Regions from separate parts of the Homo sapiens genome. Here region 2 is linked to region 1. The links come from fine-mapping of genetic effects on gene expression. A gene starts in region 1. The other region holds a variant in brackets. All regions are shown on one strand. Distances are from middle to middle.

Evidence for each region. PIP is the estimated chance that this variant, and not a neighbour inherited with it, causes the effect. A credible set is the group of variants that fine-mapping cannot tell apart.
Region 2: its variant is the best candidate, but not a certain one, in a credible set for the expression of SGF29 in skeletal muscle (GTEx, PIP 0.54).

The regions. Positions count from the first base shown.
Region 1 is chr16:28,552,605-28,555,508 of GRCh38, reverse strand. SGF29 (SAGA complex associated factor 29) reads right to left here and starts at 1,589. Exons shown (of 10, transcript NM_138414.3): 1 at 1,412-1,589. RefSeq lists a silencer at 1,161-1,280 and an enhancer at 1,301-1,620.
Region 2 is chr16:28,596,651-28,599,554 of GRCh38, reverse strand. SULT1A2 (sulfotransferase family 1A member 2) reads left to right here and starts at 2,505. Exons shown (of 8, transcript NM_001054.4): 1 at 2,505-2,558. RefSeq lists enhancers at 1-104, 105-639, 2,273-2,567. The variant A/T (reference allele first, on the strand shown) is at 1,558.

The sequences.
Region 1 (2,904 bases):
GTGGATTTTCTTCCACCTCTAGAACTCTTTTTTGAGACAGGGTCTTGCTCTGTCACCCAGGCTAGAGTGCAGTGGCACGATCTTGGCTCACTGCAGCATCCACCTCCTGGGTTTAAGTGATTATTGTGCCTCAGCCTCCCAAGTAGCTGGGATTACAGGCGTGCACCACCACGCCCGGCTAATTTTTTAATTTTTTTTTTTTTTTTTAGAAGAGACTGGATTTCACCACGTTGCTCGGGCTGGTCTCAAACCCCTGAGCTCAGGCAGTCTGCCCACCTCGGCCTCCCAAAGTGCTAGGATTACACGCATGAGCCACCGCGCCTGGCCAGTATTTACATTTAAAATGTGAAACTGGGATTGCGGTGGCTCATGCCTGTAATTCCAGCATTTGGGGAGGCTTTGGTTAGGAGGACTGCTTAAGCCCAAGAGTTTGAGGCTGCAGTGAGCTGTAATAACACCACTGTTCTCCAGTCTGAGCAACAGAGAACGTGTCTCTAATAAAAACAAAAATGTGAGATGATGCCTAGGTTAGAATCAGCAGAGGAGAAGCCAGAGAGAGCAGAGGCAAAGGAAGAGAACGTTCAGCAAGCCAAATGAAAACAGTGTTTCAAGGAGGGGCAGTGATCCACAGCATCAAATGCTGAACAGGACTGAGACCTAACTTAACAATGCATTTGGCCACCTAGAGATCACTGGTGGCTTTGACAAGAAGCCTTTTTAGTGGAGTGGTGGAGACCAAAGCCTGACTAGAGGCTCAAGGGTTCAAGACTTGGAGGAGAAAAGGCATTAGTGAGGGTAGACTAAGGCCTTTGGCTGCAAACCGGAGCCGAGGAGGAGGTAACTGGAGGATAGCGAGGGTGAAGGAGGCTGTTTTGTTGTTCTTAAGACGGGCATTTTTTGGCCGGGCGCGGGGGCTCACGCCTATACTCCCCACACTTTGGGAGGCCGAGGCGGGAGGTTGAGCCTCCTGGGCAAACGACGAGCTGTTAGTGTATCTTGTTAAGAACTATATATATATACAAAATTTTTGTGCAAATCATAAAATAAGTGCTGGAGTTCGGGGCCCATCCTCTGTCCGCATCTTCGTGACCCGGGTCCGAGTACCCCACCTGGAAGCTGCGTCCGTGCCGAGCCCAGCGTGTCGCTGTTTCCCACCCTCGCCGGGGATGGAAGCACGCAAGCGCAGACCTCGAGCGGCCGGGCGCAGGGCCCGCCCTCCCCGAGCCCCGGCCCCGCCCTCCTCTCCCGCCCCCACCCCCACGAGCCCCGCCCCCCTCCCGCCCAGAGCGCGTGCGCACCGCCCCTAGAGCGCCGCCTCAGGGAGGTCGGGAGCCGCGGCGCGGAGGGAGGACTCAGCCCTTCGCTCCCGCGTTTCGCCGGAGGTCTCAGGCCACGGCCCGTCGCCACCTACCGAGTCCGGGACAAAACAAGCTCGTCGGGCTGGAAACTGCGACGAGGGGAGCAGGCGCGTTCCTCGAACCCTTTTTCGGAGTCTGCGGATGATCACAGACCTGCGTTCGAAGATTGGCGGCACGTCGAGAACCGCACACGCTTTTTTTTCCTTTTATGAGCGTAGTCGCGCGCGGAGGACCTTGCACGCATGCGTAGTCGTTCCTCTGTGACGTGACCCGCTGCCCCGTGGGAAATGTAGTTTTCACTTGGCACACCGCTCCGGCTCTTGGCGGAACCCTAATTTAACCAACCAAAGTGCTTGTGCGTTTTCAGCGTTTTCTCCCATTTCCCCAGACTCTATTTAAAACAAAATGCAATAAATAAATAAATAAATAAAACTTGAAAGCGAACAGATTGCTGCTTGCTGGAGGTGGGTGGGCGCAGGGGTAATATGAAAACTGTACTTTCTGCTCAATTTTGTTGTGAACCTAAAAATGCCCTAAAAAATAAAAGTCTGTTGTTAAAAAATTAATTAAAAACAGGCCGGGCGCGGTGGCTCACGCCTGTAATCCCAACACTGGGACGCTAAGGCGGGCGGATCACCTGAGTTCAGGAGTTTGAAACCAACCCGGCCAACATGGTGAAACCCCGTCTCTACTAAAAAATACAAAAATCAGCCGGGCGTGGTGGCGGGTGCCTGTAATCCCAGGTACTGGGGAGGCTGAGGCTGGAGAATCGCTTGAATTCAGGAGGCGGAGGTTGTAGTGACTGGAGATTGTACCATTGCACTCCAGCCTGGGTGACAAGAGGGAAACTCCATCTCAAAAAAACAAACAAACAAAAAACAAGCAGATCTTTAGACCCAGAAATCGCACTTCTAGGGAATCTTCTCAGGAAAGTACTAAGGATATGGACGTGCAATGGACATGTAGCCTCAATGGTATTTTATCGAAAGCCATCCTGGTATCTTAAAGTTTCTTACATAACCTACAAATGTCTGTAATTATTTGTTGATTATTTGATAAACTTGCAAGTCCTATGAGATTGGGATCATCTTGTGTTCACCTGTGTATTCCTAGTACCTAGCACAGTGCCTGGCCATCACATGTTTCTTTTTTTTTCTCTTTGAGACAGGGTCTCGCTCTGTTGTCCAGGTTGGAGTGCAGTGGTGCCATCAGGGCTCCTGAGTAGCTAGGACTACAAGCACACACCAGCACATTCTGCTGATTTTTAAATTTTTTTTGGTAGAGATGGGGGTCTTGCTATGTTGCATAGGCTGGTCTTGAGTTCCTGGGCTCAAGCGATCCTCCTGCCTCAGCCTCCCAAAGTGCTGGGATTACAGGCATGAGCCACCAACCTCAGCCCCGTCAGTATTTTTCTGTTTATTAGAGAATCTCAGGCGTTAGCACTGAAACTATGTTAACCCCAAAATTAATGCATCATTTTCTTCCATCACACTTGCAGTTCTTTCTGTGGGCGTCAGGTCAGTGAATGACATGCCCATCCACCCAG
Region 2 (2,904 bases), 44 kb before region 1:
GTGAGAGGAGTTCCTTCCGGAAGAACCAGGGCAGCTTCTGCCCCTAGAGGGCCAATGCCCTAGCTGAGTGCAGTCCCCCGGCCCCAGCCTGGTCCAGCTTTGGGAAGAGGGTGCCCAGTTGTGCAATCCAGGCCGGGGCAGCCGTGTCCTGATCTTGGTATTCAGGGCTGAGCCTGGAGGGGGCTTGTGATGCCTGACTCTGTCTCTCTCTCTGGCCCCATGCCTTGGTAGCTGTGAGGCGTCACTGCTTTGGGTGACCTGATCTGGCTGTGATGGATGAGCACGGGGGAAATAGTGGAAGACTCGGAATTAGAAGACGTGAGTGGGCTTTGGCCCCAGCCTCCCTACCCCACTCCCTGTCCTGGGCTGCCTGTGACCAACCTTGTTTCTGCAGGCACACTGGATAGCCCTGCTGGAGCTCAGTGTCCCTAATCCCCTCCAGATACTGGTGGCCTAGGGGAGGTCATCAAAGACCGGTGGGACATCGACCTCAGCCCGTTTCCACGCTTTTTTTTGTTTTGTTTTGTTTTTTTGAGACCGAGTTTCACTCTTGTTGCCCAGGCTGGAGTGCAATGGCGTGATCTTGGCTCACCGCAACCTCCGCCTCCCGGGTTCAAGCGATTCTCCTGCCTCAGCCTCCCAAGTAGCTGGGATTACAGGCGTGTGCCACCAGGCTTGACTAATTTTCTATTTTTAGTAGAGACAAGGTTTCTCCATGTTGGTCAGGCTGGTCTCAAACTCCCGACTTCAGGTGGTCTGCCTGCCTCGGCCTCCCAAAGTGCTGGGATTACAGGAGTGAGCCACCGTGCCAGGCCTTCTCCAGGCTCTTGGCACCTTAGCCAGAAACAATTTAAGGACAAGTGCAAAAGTCATGAACGTAGGCAGATTTCCTGCAGAGTAAAGGGACTCACTGAAGAAGAGGAACGTGGGGGTCCTCAAGAGAGTGTCTCATGCCCTACAAGGTGTGGGGCTGACCTTTATGGGCTTCTTCAACTAAAGAGGGGTATATTCATGAAGATTCCAGGAAAAGGTAAAGATTTCTCAAGACCGTGGTGCCACAATTTACACCCAAATACAGGTGTTCCTGGAGCCGTCTTGGCACTGGTGGGTGTACGGTTTCATATGTTACTGATTGTACAGTGAGATCCTAGGTGAAACCTACATCAAATACAGCGCCATGTTGCTTCTGGTTGGTCGCAGCCAGCTTGGTCCTCATCCTATTTTTCAGGGACTTATTGGCCCTTGGCACATGCAGCTATTTCAAGTTTCCTTCTTCTGGTCATGTGAAACTGCTGCCTGGGATTTTCTGTTGTCTTGCTAGCACTCTATTAATCTCACATTCTCGCCTCTTTTCTGTGCCACCCCCTGCTGGTCCGGCTGGTTTTCACTAGAGTGCAATACAAAGTCTCAGTCAAGAGGGCCTCCTGAAGGTTGCTGAGGGCAGGGGTGGAGCTAGTAGCCGGAGGACCTGCCAGTCATGGGGATTCCTCAGGGGCACAGAGGAGGGAGGAGGGGCCTGTGGCCCTAGCAGGGGAGCAGCCTCTCCTCTGCCTGGAA[A/T]TCCCATGCCTCAGTTTTCCCCGCTTGCCTCTGAGCTCACGCAACCCTGGGAAGGCTTGGGAGACTCACCTTTACTCAGATGGTTGTTTACCTGTCTCGTGCCCAGCTTGACCCTGGACTTTAAATAGTGAGGACAAAGAACGAGGAGGGTGGGGGGATGCACTCCTTCCACGGGGCCCTGTGGCTTCCAAGCCTCAACCTCCTCTGGCCTCTGTCTGTGGAGCCTCCTTCAAACCCATGGAAAGAAAAGTACCTGCCAGGGGCTGTGGTTCTTCTAGGATCTTCTATCGATGTTCTGTGAGGTCCCCAGGGAGCCATGAAGCTGGGGCTGGCTCCCAGGGCAATGGGACTGCAGTGTCCTTGTTCTTTCTTGTTCTATGGATCCATGCTCTGCTCCACCCCTGCCCCTTCACTCTGCCCACACGCATCACTCCAGACTGGCCTTGTGGTCAGAGCCTGGAGTGCATGGGCTGCTGGAGGCCTGTGGGTTGCACTGGGCCAGGACCCCTGGCACCTTCAAGACTGGCCTGGAGCCAGCAGGTAGGTGACCTTTCCAGGGCCTGCCTATCCCATCTTTCTCCTCCAATCCCTCCCCTCTCTTGCCTGGGTCAATTAGAGAAAGCTTGTCTTTTGGAGTTCAGGGGCAGGTCAGGAGCCCAGTGACAGCTCAAAAAAAAAAACCCACAAAAACAAACCCACCATTGGGCCCTTTCCCCTTTCATTCTTCTGTTTTCTACACACCAAACCCAGTCGTGGCTTTGGAGATCACTTTAAGCTTGTCTCCAGCTGGCAAACTAAGGAGGGTAATAGAGAAGCTCCCCCACCCCCAACCCTACCCCTTCCTTCCGGAAGCAAATCTAAGTCCAGCCCCGGCTCCAGATCCCTCCCACACTGACCTAAGAAACCCTCAGCACAGACAACACCCCTGCATTCCCCACACAACACCCACACTCAGCCACTGCGGGCGAGGAGGGCACAAGGCCAGGTTCCCAAGAGCTCAGGTGAGTGACACACCGGAATGGCCCAGGACGCCCTCACCCTGCTCAGCTTGTGGCTCCAACATTCCAGAAGCCGAGGCCTCTGCTATCCCTGCCCTCTCCCCATGGATATCCCATTTCAGACAACCCCGGCCGGCCTGAATCCCCCTCCCTTCCTTTTTTTTTTTTCCGGGGAGGCCAGGTCTTGCTGTCACCGAGGCTGGAGTGCTGTGGGATCCTGGCCACTGCAGCCTTGAATTCCTGGGCTCAAGTGATTCTCCTGCCTCAGTAGCTAGGACTACAGACCCTCACCATCCTGCCTGGATAGTTTTAAAAAATATTTTTAAAAGATTTTTAGAGATGGGGTCTT